Homo sapiens: one gene and its partners. The protein of the gene in region 1 interacts with the protein of each later gene in a pairwise test. Each region holds a gene or a part of one and is shown in the gene's direction. Other genes may lie near its edges. The genes, in order: SGPL1, FAM177A1 and MFSD6.

Region 1 (3,754 bases):
AATACCCTTATATAACTTAAAATTCTTATTCAAAGACCATTATGTTAGAAATACTGGAAACTATAAGTAAGCAAAAGGAAAGGGGATTTGTTAATCTCCCCTATCTCCTACATCCCCTTCATTCGCCTCTACCCCGTGCAGTAATTTATCACCCAGAAATAACCGCTGTGAGCATCTTGGATGGTTAATGCAGAGTGACTTGTAGCAATTGACAGTTTCTGTTTATCCTCTTACAGAAGGATATGTTTATGTAAATTATAGGTTCTTATATGTAAGATATTTCCCCATGCACAGAGATATGGTTATTACTTATAGGGCCTATGCATTTACTTTAACAGAACAATGACTGCTTTTACTCGGAATATTAACTTTGGAATCAGTTTTCTTTTGAGGTATTTCTCTAGCTGTTGCCACCACCTTTCACCTCCTCACCTGTTAATTTAGAATGTTTAGGAGTGTTGCTTTGCTTGTTGCTGTAAGGAATTAATCCACATAGATGCGAGTGGCCCTAGGCAGTCATCACTTTCTGAAGACAACATACATGTTGCATGAAGTGCTTTCACTGGAAAAGTTGTCATTCATTCCTTGACTGTAATGTATAATGCTATTTGGAACTAACTGGTAAAGAACCAATAACCATGGCTGGGTTTTCAGTGGCACACTAACCCATCATTCTATGAGGTGTTTCTCAAGCTACTTTATATGATATGTAAAACATGTTCTTGGCCCTCCACCTGGGAAGAAAGGACCTAAGTGAATAAAAAAATAACCTCAGTGCAGTGCAGCATCTCAGAATTAGAAATAGTCTTAGAAGTCATGGGATGCAGCTTTTTTTTTTTTTTTTTTTTTGAGACAAGGTCTCACTCTGATGCCCAGGCTGGAGTGCAGTGGCATGATCTCAGCTTACTGCATCCTCAATCTCTGAGGCTCAGATGATCCTTCCACCTCAGCCTCCTGAGTAGCTGGGACGACAGGCACATGCCACCATGCCCGGCTGATTTTTGTATTTATTTTTTGTAGAGATGGTAGTTTGCCATGTTACCCAGGCTGGTATCTAACTCCTGGGCTCAAGGGATCCAACCGCCTGCCTTGGCCTCCCAAAGTGCTGGATTACAGGCATGAGCCACTGTACCTGGCCTGTGATGCAGCTTATATTATACATGAATCTGTTGAAGAGTATCTCTGGTAAATGGATATCCAGTCTCCCGTCTTTTCTGCTAATGGAATAAGTGAGCAAAAGCTAGGAAACAATACAAGGTGGATTCAGGAATAGTAATGTTAACTCTGATAGCTAACATTTATTGAGCATGTATTACATGTTAAGTGTAGGAATACTGTACTTATTTAATTTTCACAAAAACCTTTTGGTATCCTTCTTTTACAGATGAAAAACGAGGCTTATAGAGAGTAACTACAGCAGTTGAGTGGTGGAGCCAAGTTTGACCTCAGTTGGTCTGACTTCAGATCCCTCCCTCTTGCCTACTTTGTGTCCTTACCCCTGGTAAGGGTAGAGGTTGCTGACCATTGTGACTGATGGGAGAGGGTCTGTGTGGAGCAGATGGGATAGGATAGCTCCACCCTCTAGGGGGCACTTTGGCAATGGGGGACTGGGGGAGGAGGGAGTCTTTTTTCTTCTAGTGTAGTCTGAAAATACATGTTTTATTATTAAATTATTATTAAATCTTGTTTATTGGGTCAGGCGTGGTGGCTCATGCCTGTAATTCCAGCACTTTGGGAGGCTCAGGCGGGCAGAGTACTTGAGGCCAGGTGTTCTAGACCAGCCTGGTCAACATGGCGAAACTCTGTCTCTACTAAAAATACAAAAATTAGCTGGGCATGGTGGCGTACACTTGTATTCCCGGCTATTTAGGAGGCTGAGGCAAGAGAGTTGCTTGAACCCGGGAGGTGGAGGTTGCAGTGAGCTGAAGCTGCACCATTACACTCCAGCCTGGGCGACAGAGCGAGACTGTCTCAAAAAAAAAAAAATTTGTGTTTTATTTTCTTTTACGTCGCATTTAATGAATTATATTGAAATTTTAAAACTTGTATCTGCAGGCATAGTGTTATAATCTTTAAATGCCATGTCAGAGTAGCAAAAGGGATTACAGAATATTTGTTATAAAAAGAGGGCATTGGGTCATAGAGTTGAAGACTACTTGTGTGGACAGTATGCTGTGAGAGAAAACCTGGAGATGACCTGGAGTCCACATATAACAAGCCTTGAATCCAGACTGACAGGCTCGGGCTATCAGCCCTCAGTGTGTTCCTGCCCTCAATTTTGTTATCATTTGATTAGGATAGTTTGCTTGCCTTTTTCCATTTGCTCGTATGTGATGTGTCATAGACTGCAGTACTTTCCACCTGTGTCTCATAGAGAATAAAATGAGTATGTTCATCTGCTGAGAGTTGTGATGATGTCAGAGGGAATTCAAGTCAGACAGCTTTGTAGCAGCCTTTCTCCCCCTTGGCAACCATTCTTTTTATTCATACTCTCCTCCTTGGTGCTAGAGGGTGGTATCACTTTGCAAGTTGCCAAATATTTGTAGTTTTTAAGAAAAAGGTATTTTATAAAGCCAGTCTACCCCTTAGGTGGCTTTTTTCTTTTCTCATCAGAAAATGATGACTAAATTAGCTGATATTCATAGATGAATCAAGGTTAGCGTGTGCACCCTGGTAGTGCTAGGTGGGGTTTGAGTGATAATTGCTTATCTAGGGCAGTGGTTCTTGACCAGGGGCAATTTTGCCCTCTGGGTGACATTTGACAATGCCTAGAGACATTTTGGGTTGTTACACCTGAAGGGTTCTGCTGGCATCTAGTGGGTAGAGGCTAGGGATGCAACCAAACACCTTACAACGCACAGTTTCCTGCAAACAAGAATTATCTGGCCTAGAATGTCAATAGTGGTGAGGTTGAGAAACTGGTATGAAGTTTCTTACCATAGATACCTGGATATCTGTGTAGTCTATGCTTTCATATGGGTGGGGGAGTGATTCCCTTCTTGGAGGTTAACGTGTCTGTTATTGTCTCACTTGGGGTTATTTTGCCCATGGGTCAAGCCTTGCTGCTCAGGAATATATATTGGAGATGGTGCAGCTGATCTTTTATAGCAATGCAGAATTCTTAAGAAATGCTGTCCTTTGCAACATTTCTGCACCACTCTTTTCTTGATTTGCAAACAGCAAGCTTCCCTCAGTTTTGTTTTTTGGGTTCAAAAATTGAATCTTTCCAGGTCCTTGAGCGTCTTTATCTGTGACCCTTGACTCTTTTTCAGGGATGCTTTCTTTCTGAATCTCAAGTGGGATTTAAGCAATAAACTGAAAGATTGACCTTAGGAGCTCTGTTCTATTATTTGAGCCTTGTGTCTTGTTTGTAGGATTTGCTAGAAGAAAGGGAAAATTCATTGGGATTGTTGATAGGACATTAAAAAATTTGTTGACATTTGAGTGGCCATTGCAGGATGAACACTGTATTTGGCAATCTCCCAGTGTTATAGATGAAACAGAGCTGTAATAATTTCCACAGCCTTTGGTTTAAAGGAAAAGAGGGTTATAAACAGATAGAATCCAAATCCCAGTATTTGACTTAGCTTTTCAGTCTATGTGTCAGGAATTTTTAGTAATATTTACCTTCTTAATTAGGTTTTACCCAATCTAATATTATATACAGTTTGTGCACATTGGTGGCAGAATTGAGAATCAGCCTGGGTTTAAGAATTTCCATAGGGAATTGATGTGAATCAGTCTGTATGTGTAA
Region 2 (3,754 bases), on another chromosome or scaffold:
CTGACCTCGTGATCCACCCGCCTCAGCCTCCGAAAGTGCTGGGATTACAGGCATGAGCCACCGTGTCCGGCCTATAACAATATTTTTTTTTTCTTTGCGTCGGAGTCTCGCTCTGTCGTCCAGGCTGGAGTGCAGTGGCATGATCTCGCCTCGCTGCAACCTCAGCCTCCCGGATTCAAGCAATTCTCCTGCCTCAGCTTCCCAAGTAGCTGGGACTACAGGTGCATGCTACCACACCTGGCTAATTTTTGTATTTTTGGTAGAGACAGGGTTTCACCATGTTGGTCAGGCTGGTCTCGAACTCCTGACCTTGTTATCTGCCCACCTTGGCCTCCCAAAGTGCTGGGATTACAGGCGTGAGCCACCACACCCGGCGGAGCTACAAGTTAATGGACAATCACATACATTGCTACTGCATATTTATAGGCAAATTTTCTAGTGTGAAGTTTTGCAATGTGAATGAAGAGCTTCCTAAATGATTATATTTTTGGCCTAGTTAATTCCACCTTTAGGAATTTAAGCAGATTAAGTAAATAGGCTTAATATTATAATTATATTAATATGATATAATACATGTGGAAAAATAGGATAGAGAAAATATGTAAGGGACAACAATGTTGTAAAAATAAGTGTATGCTCAGGAAAAGACTGGAAAGGTACCCTGATATTTGGATAATTATTTCTAGGTGGTGGAAAATGGGTGAATTACATTTTTCTTATATTGACCTCCATTTTCTTTCTTTCTTTCTTTCTTTTTTTTTTTGAGACGGAGTCTTGCTCTGTTGCCCATGCTGGAGTGCAGTGGTGCGATCTCAGCTCACTGCAAGCTCCGCCTCCCAGGTTCACGCCATTCTTCTGCCTCAGCCTCCTGAGTAGCTGGGACTACAGGCACCTGCCACCACGCCCGGCTGATTTTTTGTATTTTTTTTTAGAGACAGGGTTTCACCGTGTTAGCCAGGATGGTCTCGATCTCTTGACCTCGTGATCCACCCTCCTCGGCCTCCCAAAGTGCTGGGATTACAGGCGTGAGCCACTGCACCCGGCCGACCTCCATTTTCTAAGTGTTCTACAACAAATAAATATGACTTTTATAATCTGAAAATAAATTGTTTTAATAAGAAAAGGTAGTAGGTCTTAATAGGGAAGGAAGAGATACTTATATTTTTGGAGGAAAAATGAATCATTTTGAGTTTTAGCACTATATACAAGAAGTCTTGAAGACACAAGATCTTGTCCCAGTTTTGCTATTACTGGGATAGTCTAGGTGGTGGAATTCTGGCATAGACTCTAGCTACTTCTTTTTTTTGATTCAATCAAGTCAATGTTCAAACAAAGGGCCCTATATATTCATTCTGTATAGTTGTGTGGGATGATGATAAATGTTATTCAGGAATTATTAACCTGTTTTTCAGCTCTGGAGCAGATTTGATTCTTTGGTAGTCATAGCTTGGATATTATCAATTATTCTCGCCAGAAACAACCCCAGGAGAATTGGTCCACTGAGAAACATATTTACAGTTGAACCTTGAACAATGTGAAGTTTAGGGGTGTGACCCCCCAACTACCCTGCACAGTTGAAAATCTGCCTATAACTTTTTATTCCCCCCAAACTAAATTGCTAATAGCCTAGTGTTGACTGGAAGCCTTACCTAGAGCATAAAGTCAATTAACACATATTTCTTATGTTATATGTATTATATGCTCTATTCTTACAATAAAGTAAGCTATAGAAAAGAAAATGTTGGCTAGGCGTGGTGGCTCATGCCTGTAATCCCAGCACTTTGGGAGGCTGAGGTGGGCAGATCACAAGGTCAGGAGTTTGAGACCAGCCTGGCCAATATAGTGAAACCCCATCTCTACTAAAAATACAAAAATTAGCCGGATGTGGTGTTGGGCACCTGTAGTCCCAGCTACTCGGGAGTCTGAGGCAGGAGAATCACTTGAACCTGGGAGGCGGAGGTTGCAGTGAGCCGAGATCGCAACATTGCACTCCAGCCTGGGTGACAAAGAAAAGATAAAAGAAAGGAAAGGGGAAAGGAAAGGAAAAAGGGTTAAGAAAATTATAAGGAAGAGAAAATATATTTACTATTCATTAAGTGGGAAGTGGATCATCATCATAAGTCTTCTTCCTCATTGTCTTCACATTGAGTAGGCTGAGGAGGAAGAGGAGGGGTTGGTCTTGCTGTGTTAGGCATGGCAGGAGGTGGAAGGGGAGGCAAGAGAGAAAGGCGTACTTGCTGTGACTTCATGGAAATACGTAGTAATTTCTGTCTGACTGTTTTACTTTTTTATTTCTCTAAAAATTGTTTTAGGTGGTAACAGTTCTTTTCCCACCATTTGCTTTAGTTTCATTGCCTGTATAGAAGGGTCCATGTTGTAAAAGAAGTCAAGTAGTCTTGAAAAATCGGAGCCCTTCTGCCAGATTGTCTAATGTCAGTTTCTTTTCTGGCACTGCTGCTTTTACATCTTCTTCATTATCTGGCAGTGGTTTGGAGGCACTCATCTCTATCAAGCCATTTTCTGTTAATATCTCTGGTGTTGTGTCTGTTAGCTCTTGAATTTCTCCGAGATCCAAATTTTGAAACGCTCCACCCTCCACCCCCCCTTTCCTTTCATATCTACCATATCTTTCATGATTTCATTGATTGGCTCTGTCGTAAATCCTGTGAAGATGTGCACAACACTTGGGCACAGTTTTCTCCAGCAGAAATTTGTTTCGTGTTGATGTCTTTCACAGCTTTTTCTATAACAATGGCATCTTCAGTGGTGTAATCCTTCCAGACTTTCATGATGTTTTCTTTATCAGGGTTCTCTTCTTCTTCTTCTTCTTCTTTTTTTTGAGACGGAGTCTCGCTGTCACCCAGGCTGGAGTGCAGTGGCGTGATCTTGGCTCACTGCAACCTCCATCTCCTGGGTTCAAGCAATTCTCCTGCCTCAGCCTCCCAAGTAGCTGGACTACAGGTGCACGCTGCCATGCCCAGCTAATATTTTGTATTTTAGTAAAGACAGGGTTTCACCATGTTGCCCAGGCTGGTCGCAAAATCCTGAGCTCAGGTAATCTGCCCGCCTCAGCCTCCTGAAGTACTGGGATTATAGGCGTAAGCCACCACACTGCCCAGGGTTCTCTTCTATGGCATCAACAATGCTTTCCATAGAGTACTGTGTGTAATGAGCCTTAAAGGTCCTTATGACCCCTGATCCAGAGGCTGAACTAGAGATGTTGTGTTTGGGGGCAAGTACAACACTTTGACACCTTCAGTGTTGAACTTGTGGGGTTCTGGGTGGCCAGGAGCATTGTCCAATAACAAAAGAATTTTAAAAGGCAGTCCCTTATTAACAGAATACTTCCTGACTTCAGGGACAAAGCATTGATGGAACCAATCCAGGAAAAGGGTTCTTGTTGTCTAGGCCTTGACAAGTACAGACAAAAGACTGGTAGCTGGTGTTTATCTTTTTCCTTTAAGGCTTGGGGGCTAGCAGCTTTATAGATAAGGGCAGTCCTAATCATAAACCGGACTGCATTTGTACAAAATAGTAGAGTTAGCCTATCCCTTTCTGCCTTGAATCCTGGTGCTTGCCTCTCTTCCTTACTAATAAATGTCTTTTGTGGCATGTTTTTTCAGAATAGGGCACTTTGATCTCCACTAAAAACCTGTTCTGATAGATATCCTTTCTTCTCAATGATTTTCCTAATGATGTGTGGGAACTCATCTGCTATCTTTTGTTTGGCAGAAGCTGCTTCTCTTGTTTTGTT
Region 3 (3,754 bases), on another chromosome or scaffold:
CATGCCACCAGGCTCAGCTAATTTTTATTTTTTTAGTAGAGACGGGGTTTCATCATGTTGGCCAGGATGGTCTCCATCTCCTGACCTCATGATTCCCCTGCCTAGGCCTCCCAAAGTGCTGGGATTACAGGCATGAGCCACTGCGCCCAGCCGACAGTGGCTATCTTCAGGAAGTGAGACAAGATGGAGAAAAGAGGATGTTTTTGCTTTTTACCTTATAAAGTTATGTTTGGGCTTAAAATTTTGTTTTTGGAACAAGCATGTGTTCTCTTATTATATAAACTAAAAAGGAAAACAAAAGAAGACTAGAATTAATTGATTTTATAACAATCCAAAGTAAGATAAAATTGAATGTGCCTAAACTCTAATGTTAGGGAAGTGAAATGAGACTCAGGAGATCAAAGTGAAAGGTGGCATACTGAGAATTGGGGGGCAAAGGGTAAAGAGTCTCAGGTGACTGGCTTTTACTTTTTCTAATAGTAACTGTAGCATATTCTACAACTCCTCAGTTTTCCTCCTCAATAAGAATGCTTTGGAGCATACACAATTTATCTGCTTGATTAGGGGTGATAAGAATTTCTTTCTTCCTGGTCTTGCTAGTGGTGGCTGTCTTTGGAAGCATGATTGTTCTGTACAGAACAATCTGGTAGAAGGTAGGAGTTGGAGAAACCAATTTACCTGCTGTGTCATCTCATGAAATTATGGCATTCTGGATGACTTTAGGTATAATTATTTTTAGTAACAATTTAGGAGAAGCAAGTTATCATAAAGTTAAACTAATCTGATGCATATGTACTTGTTAAATACAGTCCCATAGTTCTATCCAATTCTATGTAAAATTAACTAAAACCACTGCTTAGAATCCTTAAAAATTAATACATTTCCAGACTTAGAAATCCAGAGCCATAATACATTCAGACTTTTCAGAATCAAGAAAACACATGCTTAAACTTGGTTAATTATCATTGTGGTAGTAGGTAATCTTGAGAAAGAGGGAATTGTAAAAGTATTTTACAGAAGAGATATTCTCACAATTTTAGGTATTATCCAACATTTCATTTTGGGTTCTAATTATGTTTTAGGCAGAAGGAAATCTCCATCTTTTAATTTAGGAAACTTTGTTCAATAGGTTATCTTTAAAGGCAGAAATCAAGTGCAAAGTCCTACCCTACTACAAGGCCAGTTTGGGTAAAATTTCTTCCTCAAACTCAACTAACATGGCATTTCCTTGGGCATAGCATTTTTGATTCCTGGGAAAAGCAAACAAACACATCTGATGTCAATTCTGTGTGGGGCAATGAAAACACCTTAATGCCTCCACCAAGAACATTTCCTTTGAGTTTATAATTCCTCCATGTTTAATTATCCAACATTAGCTGTCTGTTCCCATTTACTCTACTGGCATTTTGGGGGTGAGAGGGGCTTGTGTCAGCCTGATTTGTTTTCCTAAATTCTGAATGATACGTTATCCAGTACTTAGCCCCACTGCTGGATTCAGTAACATTTGCTTTGTAGCTGTTTTTGATTGCCCACATTTGGATGATATTTATTTACTGTTTTTGCAAAATGGCATTGTCTCAAGTTGGCTGGGCAACTTTTGGAATCTACCAGTCATTTGTTCAGACAAGTGATGTTTGGTGCAGGGGCCAAAACAGAAAAGCCAACCAAATAATAAATAATTACAAACGTGGAACACCTAAACCTTGAGCCTATATGTTAATATGTGTCTGCTATAGTTACTGGTTGCTATGTTATGGCTTTAAAAAGAGCACACCCTCCCAAACCCCCACCTCTACCTCAGCACCAACAAAAACTACATCCCAATGTTGTATGTATTCAAAGTAGCCTCTCCCTGCCTTGATCCATTATGATGTAAATCTAGCTGAGCCACGTGTTGATGATTATGTTGAAGAGATGTGAGTGAGAGTTCTGTATTACCTTGTGACCTGGTGGTCCTGCTGCATTTTAGGATGGGAGGGGCGGGGTAGAATGGGGGAGAATAGGGCAAAGATGGGAAGAAATTCAGACCCTTAAAAAACCATGTTCAAGAGATGTGGAAAAAAATTGAATTAAGGGGGGCAGAGATGTCTTTCTTTGACATTTGTTGTGGGGCATGTTTTAGAATGGGAGACCAATTCAGGAAACATTTGGCAAGTACAAAACAGGAAAGGCCAGCTCTGAATGACTCTGAGGAAATGTTTGGAAGCATTTTGATCTGAGACCAAGAGTGGGATGGGGGAAAGACAGGGAAAGACAGGGACACTATGAATCAGCAGTGGGCAGAGTGAGCTCTGGTGTGTGGCTTTGAGGAGGATAAAAAGGAGGAACTGGTGCTGCCTGAACAAGCCCGATGTGTGGGTTAACCGTGCCAAAGGAAAGTGAGTGGCGAGCCTGGACTGGTAGTTAGCAGTCTGTGTTGGTTATGTAGAGAGACCTTGTTCCACAGGCAGGTGCACTCCACTCTGCACGGGGCCTGCTCTCTCTGAGCTCCAATAAACCAATGTACCATGAGCCCTGCTATACTGTGGGGTGAAGAGGAGACATGGCAGTCAGGGCCCAGGATTCCAGGAGAAACTGAGCACTGGAGCAGTGGCAGGAGTGGGTCCCTGTGAGTCACGCTGGGAATTCTTAACTGTTCAGGGCACTTTTAGGGACAAAGTTAAGGTAGAACATACTTGGCCTCAAGGTACTTGGCTCAAGGTAGAGCAAAGGAGGAAGGCACCACACCAAACACATAAAGCAGAATCATACAAAGTGACATGCATGCTGCCTATGACTTTTAAGAAGTACTGTGTTCCTGGGGCCTGTCTGGGGGGTTGGGTGGCAGGGGGAGGGAGAGCATCAGGATAAATAACTAATGCATGTGGGGCTTAATACCTAGATGATGGGTTGGTAGGTGCTGCAAACCACCATGGCACACGTTTGCCTATGTAACAAACCCACATGTCCTGCACATGTGTCCTGGAACATAAAATAAAGAAGCGCTGTGTTCTTGATTAACGTGCTCCAATCCAGCAAAGGCAAGCTTCTTTAGCTATTATGGAGTGCCTTTCTTAATTCTATTTCAAAATCATGCCTGTGCAATTGTGTTTAACTAATGAACAAATATGCCCCAATTCACATTTATAAGGGAGTTTAAATAAAAGACTTTATTATGATTCTTTTGAATGAGTAAACATGACACATTTCAATTTTATTTTCTGTGTAATGAGGCTCCCTGTAAAAGGTGTGCATATCTTTTAAGAGTGTCTCAAAGTCCTTGTGACAGTCCCTTTCAATTCCGTATACTGGGAAGCACAAGGCATTAGATGAATGATCAGACCTCAATTTAATAACTCTATAATTTTTCAGGAACTCCGGGAACAAGGACATCCTAATTGTCACTCAAATGTTTTATATTTAAAATAATTCCTTTTTAAATATGTATTTTTAAAGTGATAAATAATGATTTTTTAAAAATCCAGCCAAGTATAAGAAAAAAATTAAATAAGTCCTAATTTTACTACTCAGAGATAATCCCTGATAACACTTTGGTGTCATTTTTATCGAGTCTTTTTCTAAAATACATTTTATTTGAGCTACATAGATTTACAAATATAAACTGTACTATATCGAGAGGTTTGTGTCCTGCTCTTTCATTTAACATGATGCATTTTACCATGTAGTTAAGTTCTATTTTCCCATGATATGGATATAAGATTTTATTTTTCTCTATAGCTTATTTACCTATTTTCACCATAACTTATTTAACTGT

What was found.
Region 2: the proteins of SGPL1 (region 1) and FAM177A1 interact in binary tests that used the Homo sapiens proteins (3 or more experiments, as listed by UniProt).
Region 3: the proteins of SGPL1 (region 1) and MFSD6 interact in binary tests that used the Homo sapiens proteins (3 or more experiments, as listed by UniProt).

What each region holds. Positions count from the first base shown.
Region 1 is NC_000010.11:70,818,800-70,822,553, forward strand, and holds part of SGPL1 (sphingosine-1-phosphate lyase 1), read left to right. Parts: intron 1-3,754. UniProt on the Homo sapiens protein: Cleaves phosphorylated sphingoid bases (PSBs), such as sphingosine-1-phosphate, into fatty aldehydes and phosphoethanolamine. Elevates stress-induced ceramide production and apoptosis.
Region 2 is NC_000014.9:35,070,252-35,074,005, forward strand, and holds part of FAM177A1 (protein FAM177A1 isoform 1 precursor), read left to right. Parts: intron 1-3,754.
Region 3 is NC_000002.12:190,411,306-190,415,059, forward strand, and holds part of MFSD6 (major facilitator superfamily domain-containing protein 6), read left to right. Parts: intron 1-3,754.